2 linked regions of the Homo sapiens genome follow. The protein of the gene in region 1 interacts with the protein of each later gene in a biochemical or structural test. Each region holds a gene or a part of one and is shown in the gene's direction. Other genes may lie near its edges. The genes, in order: MAP3K4 and MAP2K7.

Region 1 (15,074 bases):
ATAAAACATTGGTACTAAGAAGAATGCCTGTAAATAAGCTCTTAGTTTTGTAAAGATAAGAGAGATGCACACCATAAATACAGCATTATGGAATTTTACAAAGTTAGTTGAATTAGAACATCCAACATATAACTGCTCTTTTCCACTTAGTAATAGGTGGAGGCCATTGTTCTGTGTAAGGACATTTAAAGTAAGGTATTGTTTGGATCATTATAACCATGTTCCCTATAGTGTGTTTCCATAGTTTCAAACAAAAAATACTATTGCGGGGAGCATCTCTGTTCATTTATCTTTACTCATATATGGAGTATTTTTGTAGATTAGATACCTAGTGGTGGAATTGCTGTATTGAATGGTATGTGTGTTTTAATTTGGTAGATATTGTGCGTGTCATTCTGCAAAAGGACAGTTCATTTTGATACTCCTACCAACAATGTATGAATACCTCGTTTCTTTGTATTTTCTGTATTAGTAATATAAAAATCTGCCAGTTTAGCTGTTTAAATTTGCCTATTTCTCATTTTATATTTATCTTTACTAAGGAGAATATAGTTGGGGATTGTGGTTGAATGCATAAGGCCAGTATGAAATTTACTGGAAATATGAGGCTACATACAAGTACTATATATAGACATTTACATGGTGTGTGTGCAACCTACACACACACAGATATATACAGCTTCAGAAATGTCTCACTTGAATCACAGTATTTAATTGAATGCAACTATTTAGAAAACGTGAGGAATCAAAGAAAGTTATCAAAGCCCTATTTATATTGCAATCACGAGGATTGTGGGTCCCTGGAAACTGAATGCAGATTTTATTATGTGCATGTGTGCATTTTTGTAAGGAGTCCATGGTTTTCATCAGATTCGCAAATGTAGTCTGTGACCCAAATAAGGTTAAGAAGCATTGACCTAGATAACATTTACCATGAATTTAACAAAACTGCTCATCCTGACATGAGTTGCACTCAAAGGATAAAGCCATCAGATGCATAGCAAATTCAAAATTAGTGCAAAGGCTACAAGGTCTCTTCCACACTAGCCAAGAACAGAGATAGTCCCCCAACTCCACATTTGCTGGTTTTACAGAAAAGACTTTTTAAAAGGTCATAAATGTCAACAAGTTTGTTCAGTAAGAGGATATTATCTTTGTGCAAATAGGGATAGAAGGGAGGCAGTGACTCCTGTGAGGTCCACCCACTTTCTCCCCATTGATCAAACACTGTTCTGCATGCTGCTGGCCAGTGGGTTCTGCAGGTGCAGTTAACCTCCCTAACCTGTTGATGTTGAGTTAATGAAAGGGAGATTGTCTTCCACGGGCTGGCTTAATCAGAAGCCTGGGAGCCACCTGGAGGAGAAGGTGAAGCAGCCATGTCCAGAGTGTGAGTAGGAGAAGGCTTTGGGTAGGAGAAGGCCAAGGTGGAGCAGAGCTAGAACTGCTGCCCTGGAAGGAGGGCCTGGTGGCTTCCAGCCCAAGGAATAGCAGGAGGACCAGCCCTACCTCCAGCACCTGCCCAAGGAACATATAGCTCTAGGATTCACTTTCTCAGGACCCAACCTGACTACCTATCGGCAAATCCATGAATGCTGACCACGCTGATGCCTTCCCAGCACCTGTCTGTGGGTAACTATCTCTTAACAGGAGCCCCTGGGGGCTGGAGTGCAGGCTACTGGCATCTCTACGCTGCCAGTCATCCCTGGTCCTTCCCCTAACCCTGCCGAGGCCCAGGACCCTCAGCCCACAGGCATCTGTGAGGGAGCAAGGAAGTGAACCCCTGAGATACGGCCATTTGCAGGGCTGTCGCATGGAGGACTTGCCTCTAGGGGCTCAGCTGGTATGGGGGCAAGGGTAGGGCCAGGAGCCTGTTGTCGGCTAAGGCTCCAGAGAGGACCACGGCCATTGCAGCAGCAGCTTTAGATCTGGTGACTTTCAGGAGCACAGGAAATCATCTTCCTGATGCCTCGGACATGGCCCCCAGGTGCACTTGGGCCTCAAGTGGGGCTGCCCTGTGCAGCCACTCCCACTACAGCTTGTGCAGGGCTTTAAGCCCAGTGCCTTGTCTTGGACCTTTTAGACCAGTGTGGCTGTTACATAGAGAGTTGACGAGCAGAAACTGGTATCTCCACTTCAGGTGTGGGCTACTTGTGATACCAGACGGACAGAAGGTGGACAGACTCCAACCATGGACAGGCAGATGCTCTCAGGGAGGGTAAAGGCCTTGAGTTATTGTTTCTTTTTTTTTTTTTCTTTTTTTTTTTTTTAGAGATGGGGTCTCGCTATGTTGCCCAGACTGGCCCGGAACCTCTGGACTCAAGTGATCCTCCCGCCTCAGCTTCCAGAGTAGCTGACCCTCCTGGTGCGTGTCACCACCACAAGTTTCAGGCCTTCTTTTAAAGGGCTTTTATGTGATTAAGTCAGGCCCACTCAAGAAAATCTCCCTTTTGATTAAACAAAAATGAGCTGGCTAAGGACTTGAATTATATCTACACAGTCCCTTCTTAGCAGCAGGATGTTAGTGTATGTTTGAACAGTGGAGAGAAGAGGCTGTGTACTACAAAATGGCTGCTGCATCTCATGGCCCAGCCTTCACCAAAAGCTGAAAATTCCTGTCTTATTGGGAAAACTTTCTTAATTTATATGATAGTTTAAAAAAAGGCATTTTATCTAAAGACTGTGTTTGAGTGTTGGGTAAGGATGATTAGCTCTGCATTACCTGAAAGTCTGCTATCTGACGTCCCAGTTGATGTAACCTACCAGGTAAACTCGAGTGAACTCAGTGAACAGGCTTGATTTCATACTGTGGTGAGTGTTAAGTTTAACACCACAGGAGCTAGCTGCGGTGTTATTTGAGATTATGCTTTTGGATAATGGTAGTCATTACCAATTTATAGCAATTAAGATTTTGATACGTTTTGGACAATATTTAGTCAAATATAACTGTTTGTTCTTAAGGTTGGTTTAAGAGACAGTCAAACCATTTTTTTCCTTAAATGTTTGTTTTCTTTTTAATATAGCAGAAGGAAGTACATTCAGTTTATCTCATAGTTTAAGTAGGTGAAATAGGAATTTAAAAGACACCCAAGCCAAAACCCTTTCCAGGGCATTGCTGGGCGATCATTGTCAGCTTCATTTTGCATTTCTATTCTAGCACTGCCATAGCGGGATGGTCATCAGCCATAGCTGGGTTACAGAAGTAGAGCAAATATTTTGCAATTTATATGAGAATTTGCACACACACACACACACACACACACACACACACATCCCTGTTAGGAAATATCTCAAGGTGTGTGTGTGTGCATGCATGCGTGTGCCTATATATATGTGTGTGTAAATGTGTGTATCTGCTAACAGTAGTGAAATTAGAATGTTTGCTTTTTAAAGAATATCATACTGATGTAAAATGGAGCTGGTAAAATGGTTACAAATCAGATTCAATCTATATAGCTAGTGAAATGTTTGTGTCAACCAGAGTGGATTTAAATCCATATTTCAGCTCTTTAGTCTAAACTTAGCCTGACTTTCAGGGTCCTGGTTTGTGTTTCCAGGCTTCCATATACAGGCTCAGTGTTCAGCCACACTCTTTTCTTTGCTGCCCTTGTGTCTCTTCTTTGCTGGCTTCAGATATGCTCTTGCCTTCTTTACTTCCCTTATTTAAGCTTCCATTCTTCGAGGCCCCAAATCAAGTACTTGCTTTTACTTTAAGCCTTTACAGACTAGTTAGCCTGTGTAATCTTTTGTGGTACTCGCTGTCTTAGCCTTTCCTTGGTCAGTTGGTACTGCCTTGCAAACACCTTTGACAAGTCCAAGGATGGTGTGGTGGCACCAACTTGGGCTAGGACCCCTGTTCTGACATTAACCATGTGTCTAACCATCTGTGTTCTGTGATAATCTTCATCATCATGTTGTTACGAAAATTATGACAATGTCTGTGAAGCCCTTACCTGGAAAATGGAAGCTGGATAAAGCAATTTCTCAAAATGTGGAGCCATTGTAGCCATGTCAGAGATACGTGCACTTTAGCAGGAACGCAGTGATTTCGAACATACACTGAAATTTGAGAAGCTTGAGCTAGATGATCTCTAAGTCCCTTCAGGTTGCTGACTTGTCTGGTATTCTAGTTCATCATTACTCTGAAGATCATCTCATACTTAAAGATTATCCATCTGTTTACATCTCATTTGAGAGCTCAAATAAGGCTGGTTTCTAAAATTTGGACAATATGTATATGGGAGAACATAAAAATTGCAAGAGTTTGATTAAAAATACAATTAATACATATTCTAAAGAGCCATTTTTAGTTGTAGATGGTGGGAATTCATTTGTTTGTCTTATATCCGTCAGATGAACCATATTGCTTGTCATTGGTTCCTTTCAGTTTCATTATAAAGTTTTCTTTTAAAAAAATTTTTATGTTCTTCTGATTTTACCAGAATTATTGGTGATTGGCCAAAGGAAAAAGTGTTCCAGAGGTTTGCTTTAATTGTGCTACAAAAATCACACCATTTCATTTATAGTCACTTGGGAGATCAGGTGTCCCATTCATCAAGTTATTAAGAACTATTTTTGTAGTCCTGTAATTAGAACTTGCCAAATAAAACATTCTATATAGCTAACTCCTGTACTTTTTATTCATTTTCCTTTTCAGAATTCTGCTCTGTTTCCATTTGACTTTTGTTAATTGCAAAGGAATTTAGTATTAATAGGAAACCAAAAAACAAGCACACCTGTCCATCAGTAATAGGCTTTTGGTTGTTATTAAAAAGTTCCTTAGTCATGTCAGAGTGGGTAAAGACAAAATGTAAAAATGCTCAGGGAAATGACTAAGTCTATAGACTACCCCCGCACCCAACACCCTAGTGTTGTTCTCAGATCTCCCTTAAGTCATAAGTCCCTTATGATTTTATAGAGGCCTAACTGGTCATCAGTTGCCAGAAAGCACTCTTGGATTTACTCTCTGTGTCAGTCCATTTTGCGTTGGCTATAAAGGAATACTTGAGACTGGGTAATGTGTAAAGAAAGAGGTGTATTTGGCTCATGGTTCTGTATGCTATACAAGCGTGGCACCAATATCAACTCAGCTTCTGGTGAAGCCTCAAGAAGCTTTTACTCATGGTGGAAGGTGAAGAGGAAGCAGGCATGTCACATGGAGAGAGAGGGAACAAGAGAGAGCTCTCACATGAACTAATAGAGCGAGGACTGGCTGGTTCCCGTGGGGAGGGCACTAAGCCATCCATGAGGAATCTGCCCCCATGACCCAGACATCTCTCATCAGGCCCCACTTCCAACACTGGGGGTCACATTTCAGCATGAGATTTGGAGGGGGCAAATATACAAACCAAATCACCCTCTCCTTCTGTCACAAGTATATTATTCTAAAAATGTAGCTACTGCTGAGGTAGAGTAATTGGTATATCCTTTTTGCACAGTAGCTAGACACGAGTTTGTCTATTTTAAGTTCGAATTGCGTCATTATTTAAACTAAGATGTATGAATTTATATTTTGTGTATATTTTTCCAAAACCAACTTGGGTTTTGTTTTGGGGTGGGGGGGAACAAAAAGCTTCTCTGTCCCATCTTGCTCCTTTCCCAATTTGCTTTTCCTTAAACCTACTATGTAGGTCCAAATATTAAACCATTGCTTTATCTGAACACAAAATTTCAAAAAATTGTGTAATAGACTGTTTTGTATGCTGTGAGATAAACTTAACAAGATTTGTATTTAACCTATAAAAGTTACTTTTTCAGGCTTGCTGAAATGAGATTATGTTTATGTGGAAAAATGGGATTGTGGCATTTTTTCTTAGATTGCTTTCATTGTTGGAATAAAGGTCTAGGGTGAGAAGCTTCATCTGTTATTATTTTCATGTTTTGCCCCTGGTAAGTGTAGCACAGATTTGGAATAATGCTTGTAGCCAGTCTTCTGGGACTATTAAAGTCATTTAATCCTTAGTTTTCACTTAGGACCTTTCAATCATAGATTAGAAGAACTTGAATAAATTATATAAGAAAAGTAATATTTTTTCACTCTCAACTATTACTTTCCAATTATAAATTGTATGCAGATAGTCTGTGGCCATTATCAATAATGCACCACATTAGTTCTATAAAGTATTTTAAAAAGCCCAACGCCTGAGCCAACAAGATTGTTTTTTATTTCACAATTTTTTGTTTTCTTTGACTCAAAATCATTTATTTGGGTGTACATAATAGTTAATACACATTCTATTCTAGGTCTTCATTGCCTTTCTTCTGCACACTTTTCTTGGATGTTCTTATCTACTATCACGATATTAAATAATATCTGTACATACTAATAATTTCCAAATCCATTTCTCTGGATTTCTCTCCTAAGCCCAACATGTGTGTTTTTTTAGTTACCTATAGATATTTCCACGTGTATGTCCCATAGGCACGTCAAATTCAGTGTATTAGAAACTGAACTCATTTTCTTTACCTCCAGTCCTACACAGTGATACAATGTATATGTCATTTTGTGTTTCCCAGTAATAAAGTATAATATGAATTATCTTGAAAAATATAGTGGAGTTAAATGTGGAAGCACTGGTCATTTTTGGTTTCAAAATACCATGGGTTAACCAAATAGTATGTATGTGCTCTGTTAATAAAGGTATAAAAAACACAGTTAAACGCATCAGAGCAAGAGAATTAAAGTTGGTCTAAGCAATTTTTTTATATAAATAAGAGTTGATAAGCATTTATAGCTAGAAACAATAAAACTGTGAAGAAATTTTCTTAAATGGACTATATGAAAAGTTTAAAGACATTTAGAAGTAGATTAGTACTAAAGATAAAAATTCTATCTTAAAAATTTTAAATTTAAAAAATAATAATAATAGTAGTTTGTATACTAAAATACAGCAAAAAATCTCTATGGACAGATTGGTTTAAAACCTTTTTTGATGGATCATAAAGTAAATTTAAGGCAAGTTTAATATAAGAAAAACCAAGCTATAAGTGCTCTTTGGGAAATTTGTTTAAAAATCCTTATTTTAAGACTAATTTGAATCGGTTAGGAAGTAAATTGGTTTTAAGCAAATTTTCATTGGTGCCTTGGTTTGTGGTATATTGGTTTGTAACCCATGTAAATATACCCTATTCCATCAAATCTGAAGATATACTAATATGTCTTTAGATATTACATTCACAACTAATCTCTTATATATTCCCAACTAATCACCTAAAACTAGGTGATATTATATACTAAGAAAATTATATAATAATTTCTTAGTATAATTATTATATTAATATATATAATAAAATTCTTAGTATATAAGAAATATATACTAAGAGATTATAATATATTCTAAGGTAAAAACAGCTTATAATTGATGGTGTGTTCTTATAATTGGAATTTTTATTTATTTAAAGAGATCTTTTATACTTTCTGATATGTAGATATATATTTCACTTATGCATATATATATATATATATATATATATATGTTTAAAAAAATGGGCCAGGCATAGTGGCTCATGCCTGTAATCTCAGCACTTTGGGAGACAGAGGTGGGAGGATTGTTTGAGCCCAGGAATTTGGGACCAGCTTAGGAAACATAGTGGGATCCTGTCTCTACCCAAAAAAAAAAATTAGCTGGGTGTGGTGATGCGTGCCTGTGGTTCTAGCTACTTGGGAGGCTGAGGCGGGAGGATCACTCGAGCCCAGGAAGTTGAGGCTGCACTCCAGCCTGTCTCAGAAAAAAAGAAAAATGTAAATGAAAAATATTGGCAAATATGTCCCTAAAACTTACTTATATCATCATTGATTATATATAACGTTCTAATTTCAGAGATGTTAATGTATGAAAAAATGTGTGTCCTAGATTCAATGAAATAAACTATGCCTTGAGTGTAGAGGGTAGATTGAGATGGCGTTATAGGTTTGGGCATTATCGATATATGATGTGGAAATGAATGAGATCACCCAGGGAGAAGAGATCTAAGATTAGCACTTGGAGAAACATTAACATTTTATGTAGTGAGCAAAGCTCCAAGGAGGTATTTGAAAAGAAGGGACTAACTTAAGGAAGTGTAAGAACCCAGAAGCAACAGAATGAAAGGATTTCAGTAACGTAGAGCAATTAATAGTGTTAAAAGTGCCATACAGGATGTATGTGTGTTCATTTTAAAGCTTGGAATCAGATTATAGAACCTCTTCTAGATGTTTGAAGGAAGTGGGTGGTTTTTGCTTTTTTCGCATTAATTGTAAATGATTTTACATGGCAGTATAACATACTAAGCAAATTATACCAAATTAGTCTATATGTCTTCAGTCTTGCTAATTTTAAATTTAAAATGTTATTGCCCACTTGTTTGTGGCAAAGGAGAAATAAAGGAATAGAATAAACTAACGTCAGTGTTTTTGTCTGTCAACTGTCTTTCAGTTTTTTATGAGAATAATCTTAGGGTGCCTTAAGTATTCTTGCATCAATGTGCCTAATTTTATCAATGAGAAAAGTAATCCAGATAATTTACGTGATTTCCTCTTAAGTTTACACATTTAGCTAATGACAAATGCAGGAATTAAATATATTTTCTCATCCAGGTGTCCGTCAGATCTCCCATGCTGTTTCTTCCTCCTTAAATTGAAGGTGATTACTTACGGAAATTTGGTTAAATGATTTGATAACTATGCTTTGTAGCATAGAGAGAAATAAACAGCTAGTTTAGGTAATTAGTTGTGAATATAAGAGAATACAGCAAATACTGGAAAAATGGATAATTTTTTTTAAAATATAGAAAATGTCATATATATTTTTTGATTCCTTTAATTTTTAGGATATGGTATGCTTTTTTTTCTTCCATTAGCAGTCTGAAAATATAAATATGTGTGAATACCAGTTTTATTGAAAATATTGAGAGTAGCTTCATATTTTAGAGTTATATAATGTTCTGTTTATTTTTTTTTTTAATAGAAAAAATGAATGCACCAAATCAGCCTCCACATAAAGACACTGGAAAAACAGTGGAGAATGTGGAAGAATACAGCTATAAGCAGGAGAAAAAGATCCGAGCAGCTCTTAGAACAACAGAGCGTGATCGTAAAAAAAATGTACAGTGCTCATTCATGTTAGACTCAGTGGGTGGATCTTTGCCAAAAAAATCAATTCCAGATGTGGATCTCAATAAGCCTTACCTCAGCCTTGGCTGTAGCAATGCTAAGCTTCCAGTATCTGTGCCCATGCCTATAGCCAGACCTGCACGCCAGACTTCTAGGACTGACTGTCCAGCAGATCGTTTAAAGTTTTTTGAAACTTTACGACTTTTGCTAAAGCTTACCTCAGTCTCAAAGAAAAAAGACAGGGAGCAAAGAGGACAAGAAAATACGTCTGGTTTCTGGCTTAACCGATCTAACGAACTGATCTGGTTAGAGCTACAAGCCTGGCATGCAGGACGGACAATTAACGACCAGGACTTCTTTTTATATACAGCCCGTCAAGCCATCCCAGATATTATTAATGAAATCCTTACTTTCAAAGTCGACTATGGGAGCTTCGCCTTTGTTAGAGATAGAGCTGGTTTTAATGGTACTTCAGTAGAAGGGCAGTGCAAAGCCACTCCTGGAACAAAGATTGTAGGTTACTCAACACATCATGAGCATCTCCAACGCCAGAGGGTCTCATTTGAGCAGGTAAAACGGATAATGGAGCTGCTAGAGTACATAGAAGCACTTTATCCATCATTGCAGGCTCTTCAGAAGGACTATGAAAAATATGCTGCAAAAGACTTCCAGGACAGGGTGCAGGCACTCTGTTTGTGGTTAAACATCACAAAAGACTTAAATCAGAAATTAAGGATTATGGGCACTGTTTTGGGCATCAAGAATTTATCAGACATTGGCTGGCCAGTGTTTGAAATCCCTTCCCCTCGACCATCCAAAGGTAATGAGCCGGAGTATGAGGGTGATGACACAGAAGGAGAATTAAAGGAGTTGGAAAGTAGTACGGATGAGAGTGAAGAAGAACAAATCTCTGATCCTAGGGTACCGGAAATCAGACAGCCCATAGATAACAGCTTCGACATCCAGTCGCGGGACTGCATATCCAAGAAGCTTGAGAGGCTCGAATCTGAGGATGATTCTCTTGGCTGGGGAGCACCAGACTGGAGCACAGAAGCAGGCTTTAGTAGACATTGTCTGACTTCTATTTATAGACCATTTGTAGACAAAGCACTGAAGCAGATGGGGTTAAGAAAGTTAATTTTAAGACTTCACAAGCTAATGGATGGTTCCTTGCAAAGGGCACGTATAGCATTGGTAAAGAACGATCGTCCAGTGGAGGTAGGTTTCCAGTAGGTATTAATACAATGATATCCTTAGTTCCATTTATTTATTGCAAATTATAATGTTGGTGTTATGTACTTTCATATTCTAATATTTTTGAACACAAATGGCAGTTATAAATTGCACATTTAAGCATTTCTGTAAAGTACTATGATTAAATAGATCTATGAAAACTGCATGAAATTTAGTGAATTAAGTGCAGGGTGGTATGTGGAGGGAATAAGTTCAACCACGTAAATACAGGATGGCAAAGGACAGGCTGGGTATAAACAAAAATGGAAGGAAGAAAGCCATAGTCATGGATGACCACAAGCTGCATGTGAGTCAGGAAAAAAGTCCACGTCACACTCAGGTGTTTATAAATGAATAGGGCGCCCAAGGTCAAGGAGAGAGTTCTTTCTCTATCCTTTGAAGTTGTTTTCTCTCTTTTGATTAGCATGTCAAGTTTTGGTCACTGTATTTTAAAGAGATGTAAATTATAGAGAAATGTCAGAATGATCAAGGGGAAAAAGCCAACACTATCTCGCAAGGTTAAAGTGTTCGGTGCAGGTGATGAAAGTTTAAGGGAAGTCCTGATTTTTGTCAGATATGTGTTTCGATATGTGTAGATTTTTGTGAGAGGAATGTGCCCACTAGAGGAAGTGACTTGAAAACAGTATAGATTTGCTTTTGATAGCTTGACGTGTTATAAATTCCTTATTGTAAAGGGTGGTAATACTAGACAAGGGCATTTTGTGGGATATCATTCTTGAGAGTCCAAAATAGTACTGTACAAGTGATTTTGCTTTTCTGGTGAGTTTGCATGTTCGTCTGGCTAAAAGTGAAACCCAAATCTTTGAAATACCTTATACCCGTGTTAAGTCTGTGATTCTGAATTTTAGTAGCTGTATACATACATATGTACAATCCCCTTGGTATCAGAGGTGGTTTGGTTTTGGGACTTCCCACGGATCCCAAAATCCGAAAATGCTCAAGTCCCTCATACAAAATGATGCAGTATTTGCATATAACCAATGCACAACCTCGTATGCTTTAATCTCGAGATTATGTGTAATGCCTTATGTAATATAAATGCTGTGTAAATGGTTGTTAATACTGTATAGTTTGGGGAATAATGGCAAGAAAAAAGTTTGTACATGTTTAATACAGATGTAGTTTTTCTTCCCAAATATTTCTGATCTGCAGTTGGTTGAATTCATGGATGTGGAACCCACGGATATGGAGAGCCAACTGTATATACTTGTTATTTTTATTTTTTTAACTTCATTTTTTTTTTACACAGCCTGGCTTGCTTTAAATTCATTAACGATAAACAACTTGGAAACTATGGAAAACACCTGAAGAGAACTTGAGTTTGCAAGATTTTAATTTTTTATTCTGACAGCCGGATTATGAGCCCTTAGGAGGAACGGGTTAAGCATTCACATAAATTCAGGAAGATGTTTACAACATGAACCAGTGCTTTGTAGCTATATTTTAAGAGATTTACTTTGAATATTATTTTGATTAGAAATCTTAAACATGAATGGCTGGAGTGGTTTAATTTCATTAAGGACATATGTTGGTAAGACAGGATTGATGTTTAATTTGTATTGTGACCACTGGTTTTGAAGTAACATGAGTGAAGAAAAAAGTCCTGGCAGTACCAACATCCCTTGGTATCTCATCCCAGGGGGATTTGTTCCAGGACCCCCATGGACACTCAAATCCTTGGATGCTCCAGTCCCTCATATAAAATGGTGTAGTATTTACATACAACCTATGTGCATCCTCCTGTATGCTTTAAATCATCTATAGATTACTTATAATACCTAATACAATGTAAATGCTGTGTAAATAGTTGTTATACTGTATCTTTTTTGTTTGTATTATTACTATTACTGTTTTAGAGACAAGATCTCACTACGTTGCCCAGGCTGGACTCAAACTCGTGGGCTAAAACAGTCCTCCTGCCTTAGCCTCCTGAGTAGCTTGTATTACTTTTTATTGTTGTATTCTTATTTTTAATGTTTTTTCAAACATTCTTGATCTGCGGATGCATATCCCAGGGTTTCAGAGGGCCGACTGTATAACCTCACCTCTAATTCAGTGGTTCTTATAGGAGAGCAGCACATGAGAAGAGGCCACGGTGGGGCGGGGGTGAGTTGGACATGTCGGGCTTCCGTAAACTGCTTCACCCACCCTCCCTCCCCAAATTGTCTTCCTTCCTCTCCAGGCTCTTCGTGGTGATTAACTATTGCTACTAATGAGGATTGTATCCCTTAGATATGTTATAGCAAGAAAAGATTGAGAACACGTGCCCTACATCTTATATTAGAACTCATGTTGAAAAAAGACAGTAATAGTTTCCCCAGAGTTCTGAATTCTCATCTGAGTTGTAGTTCTTTGGTTTGACCAATTGAGATTTCGCTGAAGAGGTCATCTTTGTTATAGAAGAAAAGAAACACGAATTCAAAGTTTATAAGGTATATAACTGAAAGACTTTATTAGAATTTTGTGTAGGTTGTTTGCTTTTCAAAAAATGAACTACAGAAGCCCCTGTTGTTTTAAATTTTGGTTCATAAGATGCTAAGTGTTCATCAGATAATGAAAGAGTAACAGAGAGCGAAAGTGGGACTTCTTCAGTATTGGGGATTAATCCAAACTAACAAAAGATAAGGCTCTACAATTCTAATTAACTTAGTGGGAAAGTAAGATTTTATTTTTATTCCCACTTTAGGAACATAATTTCTATAAAGGGAGGCGTGTGTGTGTGCGTGCTTGTGTGTGTATGTGTGTGAATATGTGTACAGTCCCCCACTCCCAGGTTTGTTTTAGTCGTTTTATTTGGTATGTCAGGAAAAGAGTCACAATTTTGAAGTCCATTAACTGGGTTTCATTTCTCACTGTGACCCTTTCTTACCATAGAACGTTGTGGATAGGAATCTTTCTGACTCGAAGCCTTTGCATTTATAGAGTGGGTATAATACTACCTTCTTACCTACCTCACAAGGTGGTTGTTGTGAGGCTGAAAAAGATAGGCGGTAAGTGGTGTTTTCATTCCCACACTGCTATAAAGAAATGCCTGAGACTGGGTAATTAATAAAGAAAAGAGGTTTAATTGGCTTATGGTCCCACAGATTGTATAGGAAGCATGGCAGGCAACATCAGCTTCTGGGGAGGCCTCAGGGAGCTATAGTCATGATGGAAGGCAAAGCCAGAGCAGGCACTTCTCATGGCTGGAGCACGGGCAGGGTGAAGGTGCTCCATTCTTTTAAACAACCAGATCTCTTGACAGCTCACTCACCATCATGAGAACAGCACCAATGGGATGGTACTAAACGGTCACCTCCCACCAGGCCCCACCCCCAACATTGGGGATTACTATTCAACATAGGGTGGGGACACAGATCCACATCTTATCAAATGGTAAAATGCTCTACAAATCAACCATAAACTTTTAGAAGTTTTATTACTTTTTCTTCCTTGAAGCTAACTGTAAATCCATATGGGTGCAACTGTATTTTTATTTTTAAGATATCTTCTGCCTTTTAACCTCTGCCAAATAATTGTACATTTTAAGGGCATACATTTTAGGCAGTAAAACCTTTTAGGTTTGAGGACTTTTTTGTTTGTTTGTTTGTTTTTGAGACAAAGTCTCATTCTGTTTCCTAGGCTGGAGTGTAATGGGAAGATCTCGGCTCACTGCAACCTCTGTCTCCCGGGTTCAGGCAATTCTCCTGTCTCAGCCTCTTGAGTAGCTGGGATTACAAGCGTGCACCACCATGCCTGGCTAATTTTTTGTGTTTTTAATAGAGACGGGGGTTTCACCATGTTGGCCAGGCTAGTCTTGAACTCCTGACCCCAAATGATCCACCTGCCTCCGCCTCCCAAAGTGCTGGGATTACAGGCGTGAGCCACTGCGCCTGGCTAGTGTTTTTGTTCTTAATTGTTAAAATATCTGAACTGACAAGGTACCACAGATTGTACATAATGCATATTTTGCAGTTTTTGTGGTTTCGTGATAATAGGAATGAATATAGGTGAAGGATTTTGTAGAAAAGAAGAAATACACGTGATGTTTGATTTTTCTTATCTATGTCTTTATATATTTTTTGATTACGTTACTTATAACCAGTGTTTGCAAAGCACATGTGATCTTACATTTAATTTCCCTTTGTAAGCATGCTTTACAAAATAATTTTTTTTTGAGACAGAGTTTCGCTCTTGTTGCCCAGGCTGGAGTGCAATGGCGCTATCTCAGCTCCCTGAGACCTTTGCCTTGGGGGTTCAGGCTATTCTCCTGCCTCAGCCTCCGGAGTAGCTGGGATTACAGGCATGCGCCACTATGCCTGGCTAATTTTTGTATTTTTAGTAGAGATGGTGTTTCACCATGTTGGTCAGGCTGGTCTCAAACTCCTGACCTCACATGATCCACCCGCCTTGGCCTCCCAAAGTGCTGGGATGATAGGTGTGAGCCACCGCGCCCGGCCCAAACTAATTTTTCTCTAAAACTTTATTAATATTTCAAAATATTTTAAAAGAACTGAACTAGCAATACTAAAAAAAAATCTGTTTGCAGTTTGTTTTCATAATATGAATGCCATAAATGCCTTTAATGATTTGTTCAAAATTATATGAAGTTGTAGCTCTGTACCTTCTGTAAATTGATTTCCTCAGGACACATTTCTAGTTACATAGGCAGTCTCTAATTGAAACAAATGGATTAGTTTCCAGAGTCCACTTGAATAGGCAGTTGTTTGGGATCTTGAAAATACTTATCTAT
Region 2 (15,074 bases), on another chromosome or scaffold:
TAGGTGGCGTCATCCTTCGGGCTGAGCCGAAGCACGCACGCGCGGAGGTTCGCACGCGGAGAAGGGCGGGTGCGCGCCGCGGGCATGCGCGGTGCGGGGCGAGACGGCGGCTCGACGGGGTCATCCGGGCGCAGGCGCAGTGCGGTGTTTGTCTGCCGGACTGACGGGCGGCCGGGCGGTGCGCGGCGGCGGTGGCGGCGGGGAAGATGGCGGCGTCCTCCCTGGAACAGAAGCTGTCCCGCCTGGAAGCAAAGCTGAAGCAGGAGAACCGGGAGGCCCGGCGGAGGATCGACCTCAACCTGGATATCAGCCCCCAGCGGCCCAGGCCCAGTAAGCACGGCGGCGTGGGGGAGGGGGCGGGCGGGCGGGGCGGGGCGCGCGCCGCGGGAGGCCCCGCCCCCACCACAAGGCCCCGCCCCCGCTTCCGGGGCGCTCGCTCTCCTCTCCGCCCCCCCCGCTGCGGGCTCGCGGGGCGAGGGTCACGGTGACCCGGGGGGCGTGGAGCCGGCGAGCTCCGGGGGGTTCGCACCCTCAGGGCTTGGGAGCCCAGTTCCCGGACCCAGGCGAGGCCCCCAGCTGATGACCCGCCCCCATCGCCGTGATCCTCTGGGTCGGGCTTCCCCGACTCCACGCGACAGTGACCACATCCAGGTCGCCCCGAAAACACAGACACGTCCCTGTTGACCTGATGCTACCACTCTCGTCATCTCAGGGACTGTCTGGCGCCCCCCTCCCCCGGCCTGGGGGCTTGTCAGCCCCGTGCAGCGACGATCTACGCACACGCGCACGCCTGGCTCGGGGACACCTGAGGTTACTTGACCACATAGAGCCCCTCCCCATCTCTTCTGACCCGAGGATTCTCCCTCTCGCTCTCCCTGTGACCGTGTCTGAGGTGGGGGGACGGGAGGGGGTCCCTTCTCCCCCTCTTGGCGACAGTGACCATGGCATTGGGCTCAGCAGACCCCCTCCCACATACACCAGGCCCCGCAAATCCCTGTGACCAGTTTCACTGCCACCATCTTGGTGAGCGTGTGGTGTCTGACCTCCAGAAATGCACATCGACCCCCAGCCAGCCCGGTGACTTTGTCACCTGTGTTCAAGTGATGGCTCCCCTTCCCTTCACACCCACACCCACCTGACCTGGGGACACCTGGGGCCAGTGTGACTCTAGGCCTGCTCCCGCCGCGCCCCAGCATACATCCACCTGCTTTCTGATCAGTCCCACCACCTCGGTACCTACCTCCCTGACACCTTGTCATCCTAGATCAGTACCTCTCGCTTCACACACACCTGGCCTGGGAACACTGACCATATCTAGTCTCCCGGCTTTTTCCCCAAGATCCTGGTCTCTAAATCCTCTGGGCTGGAGGAAATTAGATTTTCAAACCCTGTGAACACCACCCCTGACCCATGATCCTTTTTGTGTCTTTCTTGACCCAGTAAAATTCTCTCTTGTCTCCTCTGATGTGACCTTCGTAGTTTATTTAGTTCTCTCTATGGAGTCATTATGGCAGGCGAGAAAGGTACCCCCGTATCTGGGCACCCCACCCATTCCCTGGTCACCCAGCCTGACCTTCACAGCCTGACACCCTCCTGTCCCTCCCTCTCCTGACCTGAGTCAGCGTGGGTTCCTCCTTGGGGAGTCTCTTGGGGGTCCAGAGAAATCATGGAGGTGGGGATTCTGGTGCAGGACACTGCCTGAGACAAGAAGCCCAGCCAAGACACGGGTCCCTGCTAGCCCCTGGGGGCCGCCCTCCCTGGCCCCTGAGTGGATGAGACAGGGTTGAGTCCAGGATCCCGGGTGCCTTCAGGGGTGGCCGTTCCCATGCAGAGCTAGGAGGCCGGTGGCAGGCAGGCCCCCGAGGAGTCCCCTCCAGGCGTCTCTGTCTGTGTCAACTCCATCCCATCCTCCCCGCCCTCCCCATCTCTGTCGGTTCCTAGCCATCTCTGCAGTTCGGTGCCTCCCCCTCCTCCTCGTTTATGATTTGATTTCTTTTCTTTTGGACGAATCAGTCGTTTCTGTTGTGATTTATCGTGGTGTTGTTTTTTTCTTCCTTTTCCCCATCCAGTTATTGTGATCACTCTAAGCCCTGCTCCTGCCCCGTCCCAACGAGCAGGTACCAGCCTTTTTATCATCGCTGCTTGGACATCTGCACCATTGACCTAACCGCTGCCCCGGCCGCAGAATGGCGTCCCCCAGCCCCCATGCTCTGTGTGTGTCCCCATGTCCCTTCCCCTCACTCTCACTTTCTCTCTCACTCCACTCAAGCAGCGGTCAGCCCAGCCCAGCCTCCTCTGCGTCCTCCCTCCTCCTCCCCCTCCCTTACTCCCAGCTCCACTTTGGACTCCCTGGAGGAGGAGGTGGGCTCCCCCACTGAATGGGAGTCTGTGGCCTCCGGGGGTGGGGGGGGTGCACGCCTGTGTGTGTGTAACTGAGAGAACGAGAAAGTTGGGCCTGGTGGGTGGGTGGCCTGTGCCTATGGATCTCTCTCAACAACTAGGTGAACACATAGCACCCCCCGGGTTCCATACCAGCCCTGGGCGCCAGGGACACAGCAGTGAATAGAACAGATGGAGCCCCTCTCCTCTGTAGCGGGGGGCTGCAATAGGGGGGCCCACTGGACAAGGAGCACATTCCCACCAGAGAGAACATTCTAGCTGGGTGAGCGGCCCTGCAGGGGGCCAGCCTGGGGGAACCTCTGGAGACGGTGGGAATTGAACAAAGCCTCTGGGGAGGCCAGGCACGGTGGCTCACACCTGTGATCCCAACACTCGGGGAGGTTGAGGCTACAGGGAGCCATGATCACACCACTGCACCCCAGCCTGGGTGACAGCGAGATCCTGTCTCAAAAATTTAAAAACTGGGCCAGGCGCAGTGGCTCATGCCTGTAATTTCAGTACTTTGGGAGGCCAAGGAGGGTGGATCACTTGAGGTCAGGAGTTCGAGACCAGCCTGGCCAACATGGTGAAACCCTGTCTGCATTAAAAATACTAGAGATTAGGCCAGGCACAGTGACTCACACCTGTAATTCCAGCACTTTGGGAGACCGAGGCGGGTGGCTCACCTGAGGTCGGGAGTTCGAGACCACCCTGACCAACATAGAGAAACCCCGTCTCCACTAAAAATACAAAATTAGCCGGGCATGGTGGCACATACCTGTAATCCCAGCTACTCGGGAGGCTGTAATCCTAGCTACTCGGGAGGCTGAGGCAGGAGAACCGCTTGAACCCGGGAGGCGGAGATTGCAGTGAGCTGAGATCGCACCATTGCACTTCAGCCTGGGCAACAAGAGCAAAACTCCATCTCAAAAAAAAAAAAAACATAAAAGATTAGGTGGAGGTTGCAGTGAGCTGAGATCGCGCCACTGCATTCCAGCCTGGGCAACAGAGCAAGACTCCGTCTCAAAAAAAAAAAAAATTTAAAAAGCGTCTTGAAGGAGTTGGGGGGGGAGAGAAGACAGGGCCGCCAGGGCTCTGAGCGCAGCGCCAGCCTGTGTGGGGCATGCAGGCTGTGCCCCACGCCTGTGTTGGGAGAGAGAGTAGATGGGGTGCCTGGCCCTGTGAGTGGTTGTGAGTATGTGTGTCCGAGGGCAAGGGGGACTCTGTCCCGGCTGCATGGGTGTTAGGTCCACGGCATGCCCCGGGTGTGTGTTGTGCGTGCGTGCACTTGCACGGCATGTGCGTGCATGTTGACATGGCAGCCGGTGCACCTGTGGCTCCTGTCGGCAGACACGTGCCCTCCAGCCTCTCGCTCTCTCTCATCCGTTCTCTTTCTCATCCTCACCCTCTTGCTCTCACTCCACCCTCCTGAGCTGCCATGTGGCCATCACCACCTCTGTGGCCTCTGTTCTCAGGGCCTTTGTGTACCTCCTTCCCCCAGTGCCTACCTGAACCCTCCCTTCCATCCCCCCATGCTCCAGTCTGTGGTCCGGCAGCCTCCTCCCCAGGCTCCGGGGCCACCCTCGGAAGGCCTGGTGGGCTCTGTCAGGGAAGGGGCCCACAGGACTCCTCGAGGGCTGTGGTCGTCAACCGCTGAGTGCAGGGTGTGAGCGGGACTCGGATACTCTCTGAGGGCGGGAACTAGGCAGTGTCTCAAGAGATGCCAGGTGCACAGGGGTTGGGGGCTGGGTTGGGGGGAGCACAGGCCCTCGGGAGCCAGAAGGGGACTGGGGCTGTGGCTCAGGCCATGGACAGAGCAGAGGCGCAGGGACCTGAAGAAGCAGAGGGAGAAGCCTGGCCAACATAGCGAGACCCCATCTCTACTCAAAAGACAAAAATTAGCTGGGTGTGGTGGCGTGTACCTATAATCCCAGCTACTCAGGAGGCTGAGGCAGGAGAATCACTTGAACCTGGGAGGGGGATGTTGCAGTGAGTTGAGATCACGCCACTGCACTCCAGCCTGGGTGACAGAGCGAGAACCTATCTCAAAAAAAAAAAAAAACAGTGGGAGGTGACGTGGTGCTGCAGAGGCGGCAGTGGCCAGGACAGCGGGAGGGGCACGGGAGGTGAGGCCTCTAGGCCAGTCATGAACGCTGGGCCTGGCTGTGTCCCAAGGTCCCCAGAGCCCTTCCCCTGCTCCTGCCTGGTCCTCCAGGAGGGGAGCTAGGGGGCACAGCTCCTGCAGGGGCTGGCAGGACCAGATAGGGGCAATGCTGGGCCTCCTGCATTGGGACTGAGGCGTCTTCCTGCCCCTCCTACTGGCTGAGATCAGGGTCCTGGGCACACGGGAGGGACGGGGTTTAGCTGCCAGCATGGAGCGGGTTTGTCTGTTCATATTAGTCCCTGGGCACCAGTCACCAGGAGCCTGCAGAACTGTGGGGAGAAAAGGTGGACGAGGCAGGAGGAAAAGAGGGGAGAGGGGCTTGTTGGCTGAGGGCTTTGGAGAGCGGCAGGCCCCAGCTCCTGTGGGAGGGGCACCTTGGTAGGTGTGTGTAGCCGTTGTCAGGGCCTCTAGGATGTGACGTGTCAGGATTGGCTCCTCTGGAGGCCACGTTAGCATCCCGGCCTCTGTTCCTGCACCCTGTTGCCAGCCCAGCCAGGGAGACCCTAGCTCCTCCGGGAAGCTGCCCTCCTGTCCCAGGCCCCTCTCTGGCCTGTCTCTGCAGCGCCTCCTCTGGGCACCTGGGCCCTAGTCTTGGTTCCTGTCTGTCTGTCTGTCTCCTGCCCTCCCACCCCTAATGCCGCCTGCCCACCCCAGGGTGCCTGCTGCCTGCCCGCCGCCTGCCCACCCGCTGTAGCATGCCCGAGCTGCCCGCATGCAGGCTGCTGGATGAGCCAACCCCCGCCTGGCCCAGCATTGGCCCCACCTGGTCCCGCCAGCCCCTGCAGGAGCTGTGCCCCCGAGCTCTCCTCCCAGAGGATGCAGGCCCCCTGAGGTCCTGTCCTGCCCCCATGGGCCCCAGCTCTGCAGGCCAGGCCAGGAGGCCCTCATGTCAGCCCACTGGCCCGAGGGGGGCCCTCCCTGACCCCGGAACAGAAGATAGGGCAAGGCAGCCTGAAGCCTGGGTCTCGTGCCCGCTGCCTCCCCAGCGTGGCCCTGCTCGCTCTTGTCTGGGAGCCAACTTCAGTGCTACCAGCAGAGCCACAGCCTGGGCCAGCCCTGGCAGGCACTCCGCCCTGGCCTATCCATCCTGTGGGTGCTGTGGCCCTGGGCCTGCTTCCTGGGCAGAAGTGGGAGGAAGTGCACACACCTGTCAGGGAGGCCCCCTGGCCGAGGGACACCTCAGGTCCCCATCTCGTTTCTCCGTCAGCGTAGACTTGGGGCTCCCTCTCCCCTGCTAGCCTCCTCCATCTCTTTCCAGGTCAGGGGATGAGACAAGGGACCCTGAGAACAGTCTGGGGTGGGAGGGAGACCCCAGCTCCTCCAGCCCAGCAGGGCAGGGGGCTGTGCCAGCCTAGCTCGGGAAACCCAGGAGGGGAAGGTGAGGGTCCCGACCCCTCCCTGGAGTGCCAGATGTGGAGCTGACACCAGCTGGGCGCTGACCCCCCTCCCTGCCACTGGTTCTCACCCCCCTAGCCCTGCAGCTCCCGCTGGCCAACGATGGGGGCAGCCGCTCGCCATCCTCAGAGAGCTCCCCGCAGCACCCCACGCCCCCCGCCCGGCCCCGCCACATGCTGGGGCTCCCGTCAACCCTGTTCACACCCCGCAGCATGGAGAGGTGAGCCAGGGGCCCAGCAGGGTTGGGTGGGAAGCAGCATTGAGGGGCCACCGTGCCAGCCCTGGGAGGAGGGTGGTTAAACCGGTGGGAACCCCGGTATGGGGGACTGGGGTGGCCAACCTAAGGTCAGGACCCACCTCCACCGGCACCTGCTCCATGTCCCCAGCATTGAGATTGACCAGAAGCTGCAGGAGATCATGAAGCAGACGGGCTACCTGACCATCGGGGGCCAGGTACCACCTTCACTGTGGCGGGGAGAGGGAGGAGGCCCAGCCAGGCTGGACCCATCCTGGGAGCGCCAGTGGGGGGCAGGGGGCGGTGGCAGAGGCCCCAGGGACCCTCCAACCCTCCCTCTCCTCCCAGCGCTACCAGGCAGAAATCAACGACCTGGAGAACTTGGGCGAGATGGGCAGCGGCACCTGCGGCCAGGTGTGGAAGATGCGCTTCCGGAAGACCGGCCACGTCATTGCCGTTAAGGTGAGCCTTGGCGGCTACCCCGGCTGCGCCCCACACCCCAGGCCGGTGCTGAGGCTCCCTCCTGTCCCTGCCTGTGCAGCAAATGCGGCGCTCCGGGAACAAGGAGGAGAACAAGCGCATCCTCATGGACCTGGATGTGGTGCTGAAGAGCCACGACTGCCCCTACATCGTGCAGTGCTTTGGGACGTTCATCACCAACGTGAGTACCTGGCCGCGCCCTGCAGCGTCTCCTCCTCCCTCACCCCTGCCCCTTCCTAGGGAGCAGAGCCTCTGGGGGGTGGGCCGGAAGACACAGCTCCCCCGGGTGCCCCTCTCCCTGCAGACGGACGTCTTCATCGCCATGGAGCTCATGGGCACCTGCGCTGAGAAGCTCAAGAAGCGGATGCAGGGCCCCATCCCCGAGCGCATTCTGGGCAAGATGACAGTGGCGGTGAGTGACCAGGCGGGGCTTGCACTGGGCAGGATGACAGAGGCGGTGAGTGACCAGGCGGGGCGTGCACTGGGCAAGATGACAGTGGCGGTGAGTGGCCAGGTGGGGCGTGCACCGGGCAGGTGGCCTTGGGTCTGTGCCCCCTGCCACATGCACCCCCCTCTGCGTGCCTGCAGATTGTGAAGGCGCTGTACTACCTGAAGGAGAAGCACGGTGTCATCCACCGCGACGTCAAGCCCTCCAACATCCTGCTGGACGAGCGGGGCCAGATCAAGCTCTGCGACTTCGGCATCAGCGGCCGCCTGGTGGACTCCAAAGCCAAGACGCGGAGCGCCGGCTGTGCCGCCTACATGGCAGTGAGTGGGGGCCCCCCAGCGGGGGAGGGGGTGGGGGCTGGGAGGCCGGCCCCAGCCTTGGAGATACGTCTTCTCCTCCCCCCCCTGCAGCCCGAGCGCATTGACCCCCCAGACCCCACCAAGCCGGACTATGACATCCGGGCCGACGTATGGAGCCTGGGCATCTCGTTGGTGAGTTGGGGCCCTCCCCTGTTCTCCAGCCAGGAGTGAGGGCTTCTGGGGGACTCGGAGGGAGGAGAACATAAACCTGTCCAGCCCTGCCCGTCTCCCTCCCAGGTGGAGCTGGCAACAGGACAGTTTCCCTACAAGAACTGCAAGACGGACTTTGAGGTCCTCACCAAAGTCCTACAGGAAGAGCCCCCGCTTCTGCCCGGACACATGGGCTTCTCGGGGGACTTCCAGTCCTTCGTCAAAGACTGGTGAGAACCTCCCTCCACTTGGGAGGTCAGGGACAGCCCGCTGCTCTGGGCAGCTGGGGAGGCAATGGCAGGAGGGGAATGGAGGCCGCACCCTGGGATGGGCGGATGCGACTGTGGGCGGGCTCCTGGCTGGCGGCTGCCACAGGAGCTGGAGCTGGTGCCCAGGGAGCCATGAGCTGGGTTTGGACCTAGCCTGAGGGGACAGCCAGCCCTGTGGCATTTGGCGGGGTGGCTGTTGGAGATTGTGAGCACGCTTCTGCAACAAGCACAGCTACAAGTTCAGGAGGGCCATGTTCGATTCTCTCAGGGGAGCCCCACCCACCTTTCTGGGGGACCTCAGCCAGCTCTGGCCCCCCAAGCCAGGCCCTTGCCACCTGGCCCTAGGCCAGGAGGCTCCGGGACTCACAGTTGCTCCCCGCTGTCAGCCGGGGTCCTGAGGACATCCACAGCTCCTTCCCCCACACACATCTTGGGGACCCCTGGCCCCTTGGGGAGGGCCTGAGCACAGGGGTGGGGCCGGCATCCCCTCCTCCCTCGTTCTCACATCTGTCTTCCCTTCTCTTGCTCTAGCCTTACTAAAGATCACAGGAAGAGACCAAAGTATAATAAGCTACTTGTGAGTACCTGAGCCCTCCCAGTCCCCGTCCTGTCCCTGCGGAGGCGCGAGGCCAGGAGGGAAGACCGTCTCCTCCTAAGCCCCACCCCCTCGGGCCCACAGGAACACAGCTTCATCAAGCGCTACGAGACGCTGGAGGTGGACGTGGCGTCCTGGTTCAAGGATGTCATGGCGAAGACTGAGTCACCGCGGACTAGCGGCGTCCTGAGCCAGCCCCACCTGCCCTTCTTCAGGTAGCTGCTTGGCGGCGGCCAGCCCCACAGGGGGCCAGGGGCATGGCCACAGGCCCCCCTCCCCACTTGGCCACCCAGCTGCCTGCCAGGGGAGACCTGGGACCTGGACGGCCACCTAGGACTGAGGACAGAGAGTGGGGGGTGCCCACCCACCCCCCCCGCCCCGGGCCTACCAAGCCCCCGCCCTTCCCACCCCGGGGTCAGCCGGCCGTGTGCGTCCCCCGACAGACACTGTGAACGGAAGACAGCAGGCCGCGATCAGAGTCGCTGTTCATTCAGCCGCAGCCTCTGGGCCGGGGCGGCCCCCAGGGGCCAGGAGAGAGCCCTGGAGTCCCGCAGCCACCATGCACGCTCCCAGCGTGCTGTGTCCTTCGCCACTCCCACGCGCCCGTTCCTCTTCCGTCGCCCTCTGTCCCCTGCTCTACCTCTCTGTCCTTGTCTGGCTCTCCCGTCACCCTCCCTGCCTCTGTCTCTCTTCTGGCCTGAGCCTGGGCCCAGCCACCTCCTGACGGGTCCCCTGGGTCTGCATAGGTCTCCCATGGCGCAATGAGTCAGTGGCCCCCAGCCAGGCAGTGTGGGCATTGCCACTGCGGCTGGACGGGGCTGCGCGCTCGCGCTCTCTCTCTCTCTCTCTCTCTCTCTTTGATCTCAGGGGGTCCTTTTTGGAGTTTATTGTATTTTATTGTACTTGGTGGGGTGTTTGGGGTGGGGGCGGAGGAGAGCTTGTTCTCGTGGGGTTGTCGGTACCTTCAGAAACTTTTACCAAAGTCACGATTAGCTGCTTGTGGTGGGGCCCCAACCGCCCTCGGGCACTGGGGAGCTGGGCTGGGGCTGCTGCTCTGGGGTCTCCGGGGGCCACAGCTTGGGGTGAGTTGAAGACCTCAGGGGATGTGGAGGGGTCTGCGGGGCCCTGGCCGCACAGGATGGCCTTCAGGGAAGGTGGTCTTGGGGCATGGTGCAGAGCAGGTGACCGGAGGGAATCGGTGACGGAGCGGGGCCAAGGGAGGGGTCCGGAGGGAGTCAGGGATGGAGGGCAGAGGGAGTGGATGTGGGGGTTTGAGGACGTGTGACAAGCTCCAGCAGGGGTGGGGGCCGGGCTGAGGGTGGGGGTGCGAGGTGGTCACTCCCATCGTGCCCCTGGCCGTCCCTCCACTCACCCACACCTGGCCCAGTCCACGTTGAGGTCCAGGACTGGGAAGGACCGGGTGAGTGCACCGGGGACCCAGGCCAGGTGCCCCCCGGAGCCTGCTGGGGTGGCCAGAGCAGGAGGGGGTGTGTTTCCTTTTTGTGGGTGTTGCATGCAAATCAAGTGGACAAGAAAAAATAACAAAACAAAAAACAAGAAAAAAAAAACACAAAACCCCGTAAAATCACAAAGAAAATCCAACACCAAAGGCGCAGAAGCCGGCTGGCCGTGGTGGGGGCAGCGTAGGCGTAGCATCCCTCTCCTCTCACTTAGCCTGTTGACTCTTGTTATTATCATGATATTCACAAAACGCCGCATGTTTAAAAAGTCATAGATGTCATCTTCTCTCTGCCCCCAGGGAGGAAAGCCACCTTCTCTTGCCCCTTGGCCCCTTTGTCAGGGGCCAGGGGTCTGCCGGGTGGGGGTGCCAACAGGCCTGGCCCTTTCCTCCCCTGCATCCAGCCATGGGGGCCTCTGCGATTGCCGGAAGGTTGCATGGCTGGTCCCAGGGCCAGCACAGGCCCGAGGCCGGGCTGCCTGGTTTTATTTTTATTTAACTTTATTTTCTGTTTTATGAGTGTGTGTCCGCCCACCCCCACCCCCTTCAGTGTTAAGTGGGGAGCCCTGGGGGAGTCTCTCCTGCCTCCCAGCCTCTCCCAAGACCTCCCCCCTCGTCACCAGCCATCCCTCTGGACCAGGCAGAGGGCGGACCGGGTGGGCAGGGGCCTGAGGGTGGCTCGGGCCAGCCCACCAGCCAATGGACCCCTCCTCAGGCCGCCAGTGTCGCCCTGCCCCTTTTTAAAACAAAATGCCCTCGTTTGTAAACCCTTAGACGCTTGAGAATAAACCCCTTCCTTTTCTTCCACCGAGTCTGTGGTGTGTCATGGGCCTGGCAGGGCGAGGTGGGAAGGGGGTGGTTGCGGGGGGAGGTTTCTGCATTGAGGGGAGACTGAGGCAGGTTTGGGAGCTAGACGGGAGGTGTTTGTAGTGACTTGCCGATGGGTATCAAGCAGCTGGTGTAAGGGACCCCCTGCCCCCAGTGGCCACAGGTCGGGCAGCAGAGGATCCCTTAATCCCCTCAGGCCTTGGGCATTGGCTCTGGTGTCAGCCCCTCAGTCTGCCACCCCCGCTCCCTGCCTCCCTCCTTGCCAAGGACAGGGCCGCCTGCCCACGTGCGGGACCTGGGTGCAGCCCAGCTGGTGTCTGCTCTGGCCCCAAACACTCCGACCTCAGCTGGTCCAGCATGCTGGGCACCGTGCTGCTGCTGGCCCTGCTCCCAGGGATCACCACCTTACCCAGCGGGCCACCTGGTATGTATGGGCAGGGAGGTGACGGGTCTGTCATGCTTCTATCCCTGTTTCACCCTCTTTATTTTTTTTGAGATGGAGTCTTGCTCTGCCACGCAGGCTGGAGTGCAGTGGCGCAATCTCCACTCACCGCAACCTCCGCCTCCCCGGTTCAAGTGATTCTCCTGCCTCAGCCTCCTGAGTAGCTGGGACTACAGGCACGCACCACCACGCCTGGCTAATTGTTGTATTTTTAGTAGAGACAGCGTTTCCCCATGTTGGCCAGGCTGGTCTCGAACTCCTGACCTCAGGCGATCCGCCCGCCTCGAACTTTTCAAAGTGCTGGGATTACAGGTGTGAGCCACCGCGCCCCACCGATGTCACTCTCTTTCAACTAGACCTTTGGTGGTGGTCCTCATGGGGGTGGGGACAGGGCAGGGGAGTGGGGTGGGGTCTCTGTCCCCCATCCCAAGGGTGGCTCACATCCCCACTTCGGCAAAGCTCCCTGCAGCCACGGAGAGGGCCAGAGTTGTGGGAGGGGGCCAGTCTACCCAGGTGCTCTTCAGAAGTGGGTGTGGTGTGCGGATGGACAAGGGGGCTCATGCCTGTAATCCCAGCACTTAAGAGAGGCTGAGGTGAGAGGATCGCTTGAAGCCAGGAGTTCCAGACCAGCCTGGGCAACATAGACCCCGTATGGCCGTGGTAGCGAGTGGCTGTGGTCATAGCTACTCGAGAGGCTGAAGCAGGAGGATGGCTGGAGCCCAGGAGGTGGAGGCTGCAGTGAGCTGTATTCGCACCACTGCACTCCAGCCTGGGCGACAGAGGGAGACCCTGTCTCAGAAAACAAGAAAAATGGATGTGCAGGCAATCTTTCGTATTTGGAGATTAGCCGTTTTACCAGGACCCCGCTCAGCACCTGAAGGCAGACATCAGCGTGTGTTTAGGGGCACGAAGAGGGGAGGGGTCCCATGGCTGCCTCAGCCTGGACAAGTGGAAGCGTCTCAGATCTTGGTGGCCTGGCTGGGCTTTGGCTGTGCCCAGGAGAGCCTCTTGGGAGGGTATCCTCTTCACTTCCCTTCCTCGTTGGTGACAGCACCTATCTCCCCTTAGAAAGGGGAGCCGCCTGTCCTGCTGCGTCCCCAAGAGCAGCCCTGGGGAAGGTGGGGGAGCTCTGACTTCACCCAGCCGGACCCCACCATCGGGTGCTCCTCACCGCTTCTCTTCCGCCCCAGGGAGGGCTTCGCCAGCTTCGGAGGCTTCTCTAGGGGCGCATGGCTCTGCAACCGGCTCAGTTGCTGGGCTGTGCGAGTCCCAGGGGTCGCCAGGGGGCACATCACCGTCAGGGGGGAAAGTGGCGCGGAGCCCATCATGGGTGAATCGGCCGCCGCAACCGCATCCCTTTTCCAAAGGCGGCGGCGGGGGCGAGGTGGTCGGGTCACTTTTCCCGGAGGCCTAAAGGGCAGCGCGCGTTTTCTCTCCTTTGGGCCGCCCTTCCCCGCCCCGCCAGCTCCCCCGTTCCCCGCGGCGCCCGGCCCCTGGCTGCGCAGACCCCTCTTCAGCCTGAAGCTGTCCGACACAGAGGACGTCTTTCCTCGCCGCGCGGGGCCGCTCGAGGTCCCGGCCGACAGCCGCGTGTTCGTGCAGGTGGGGACCCCGGGGACACCAGGGGCGGATGGGGGCCGGTGGGGACGGGCGATCCCTGATGGCGCCTCCGTCCCCCAGGCGGCCTTGGCCCGTCCCTCCCCGCGCTGGGGCCTGGCCCTGCACCGCTGCTCAGTGACGCCGTCCTCACGCCCGGCCCCGGGGCCCGCCCTGGCTCTGCTGCGTGAGGGCTGCCCCGCCGACACCTCTGTCGCCTTCCCGCCACCGCCGCCGCCGAGCCCGGGTGCCGCCCGCCCCGCGCGTTTCAGCTTCCGCCTGCGCCCGGTCTTCAACGCCTCGGTGCAGTTCCTGCACTGCCAGCTGAGCCGCTGCCGCCGCCTCCGGGGAGTCCGCCGGGCGCCTGCGCCTCTGACGCCGCCGCCGCCGCCGCCGCCATCGCGGGTGCGCGGGCGCAGAGCCTGGAATCCGGGCGCTGGGGCCCTTCGGGGGCTGGGCACGGGCGACTCTGGCAGTGGAAAGAGGATACTCTCGGGGTCTGAGGATCTGGGGGTTGGGGGAGGTGGGGCGCAAGGGTCCATCTCTGCCGACAGAGTTTCTCCGGGGACAGTGTGGACACTGGGTTCCCCCATGGACAGCTCTGGAATCCTTCAGGGCTGGGGGTTGGATGCAGAAGGCCACTAAGGGGACACATTTCTGGGAACCTGGTGCTGGGCCTCACATGCTAGGTGCTGGGAGACGCGGACCATGCGATCTTGTGGGGCTGGGATTTGGGGTCCTTAGGGGCTGGGCGGCTAGCCACTTGTATGCGTAGGGGCTGGGCTCAGGGCACCCTAAGGGGCCGGATTTCCAGGGGTCCCATCTTGGCTGTGGTGGAGAGCTGGACTCAGGTCTCTCTTGGGGGCCCTGGGGACCAGAGCCACGATCCCGGTGCCCTGATGTCCCCGTCTCTTCCCCACCTTCCTCTCCCCCAGTGTCTGCCTCAGGACGAGGCGTGCGCCGACACTGGCAGTGGCAGCGCCGAGGGCCTGGCTGCTGACGGCCCCCACCTGCACACGCTGACGCAGCCTATCGTGGTCACCGTGCCGCGGCCGCCCCCCAGTGAGCACGCAGTCCTCCTCCGCATGGGGCCGTGGGGCGGCAGAGCGGGTGGGAAGGACGCCTGGGAGCTGGACCCAGTCTCAGCGTGGCACTTCCCACAGGGCCGCCCAAGAGTGTCCCCGGCCGTGCAGTGCGCCCTGAGCCTCCCGCGCCGGCCCCCGCGGCCCTGGAACCCGCGCCGGTGGTGGCGCTGGTGTTGGCAGCCTTCGTGCTGGGCGCCGCGCTGGCCGCCGGGCTGGGTCTCGTCTGTGCGCACTCAGGTACCGACGACCTCCGCCAAGCCGGGCCCCCAGTCTAATCCCGCGCGTCGGGACCCGGGGCGGCCGCGATCCCGCCTGCGGGGCCTGATCAACCCTAGCTAGGCCTGCCTCCGCGATGCCCGCAGCAGCCCCCAGGGGCCGCCCTTAGCCTGGCGTGGCGCGCAGCAGCCCTTCTGCAGCTCGCCTCTCCCTTCCAGCGCCCCACGCCCCTGGCCCGCCCGCGAGAGCCTCGCCCAGCGGTCCCCAGCCCAGGAGGTCCCAGTGAGGAAGGTAGGTATGGAGGTGGAGGGAGCTGGGTGAGGTAGGAGATCTGACAGTGACGCTTCCTAGCGCTTAGTTCGTGCCAGGCACTGTGGTTTTTTTGTTTGTTTGTTTGTTTGTTTGTTTGTTTTTTGAGACGGAGTTTCGCTCTTGTTGCCCAGGCGGGAGTGCAATGGCGCGATCTCGGCTCACCGCAACCTCTGCCTCCCGGGTTCAAGCGATTCTCCTACCTCAGCCTCCTGAGTAGCTGGGATTACAGGCATGCGCCACCACACCCGGCTAATTTTGTATTTTTAGTAGAGACGGGGTTTCTCCATGTTGGTCAGGCTGGTCTCGCACACCCGACCTCAGGTGATCCTACCGCTTCGGTCTCCCAAAGTGCTGAGATTACAGGCGTGAGCCACTGCGCCCAGCCTCCAGGCACTGTTGTAAATGTTTTACGCCTATGAACTAACTTAATCCCCTTAACCTCTAGGCGGACACTATTATAATCCCCATTTTAGAGACGAGAATGATGAGGCATTCTCTGAATTAAGTAACTTGTCAAAAGTCACAATACTGGGTGGAGCTTGGATTCGAACTCAGGCAGTGGGTCACCCGCGGCAGGCGCGGGCTTTGGGTCGAGCCAGGGGCATTAGGTGAGGAGAGGCACTAGGCGAGGAGAACTCAGCATTCGGACCCGGCTCCCACTC

The links.
Region 2: the proteins of MAP3K4 (region 1) and MAP2K7 form a complex in vitro, tested with the Homo sapiens proteins (one study listed by BioGRID).

What each region holds. Positions count from the first base shown.
Region 1 is NC_000006.12:161,039,674-161,054,747, forward strand, and holds part of MAP3K4 (mitogen-activated protein kinase kinase kinase 4), read left to right. Parts: intron 1-8,942; coding exon 8,943-10,306; intron 10,307-15,074. UniProt on the Homo sapiens protein: Component of a protein kinase signal transduction cascade. Activates the CSBP2, P38 and JNK MAPK pathways, but not the ERK pathway. Specifically phosphorylates and activates MAP2K4 and MAP2K6.
Region 2 is NC_000019.10:7,903,739-7,918,812, forward strand, and holds MAP2K7 (dual specificity mitogen-activated protein kinase kinase 7), read left to right. Parts: upstream 1-138; 5' UTR 139-206; coding exon 207-330; intron 331-2,069; coding exon of another isoform or gene 2,070-2,117; intron 2,118-6,016; coding exon 6,017-6,158; intron 6,159-6,324; coding exon 6,325-6,391; intron 6,392-6,521; coding exon 6,522-6,635; intron 6,636-6,714; coding exon 6,715-6,834; intron 6,835-6,957; coding exon 6,958-7,065; intron 7,066-7,241; coding exon 7,242-7,421; intron 7,422-7,511; coding exon 7,512-7,592; intron 7,593-7,676; coding exon of another isoform or gene 7,677-7,697; coding exon 7,698-7,840; intron 7,841-8,410; coding exon 8,411-8,456; intron 8,457-8,558; coding exon 8,559-8,693; 3' UTR 8,694-10,740; downstream 10,741-15,074. Other genes in the region: TGFBR3L (transforming growth factor-beta receptor type 3-like protein), read left to right, coding at 12,530-13,204, 13,735-14,121, 14,319-14,391. UniProt on the Homo sapiens protein: Dual specificity protein kinase which acts as an essential component of the MAP kinase signal transduction pathway. Essential component of the stress-activated protein kinase/c-Jun N-terminal kinase (SAP/JNK) signaling pathway.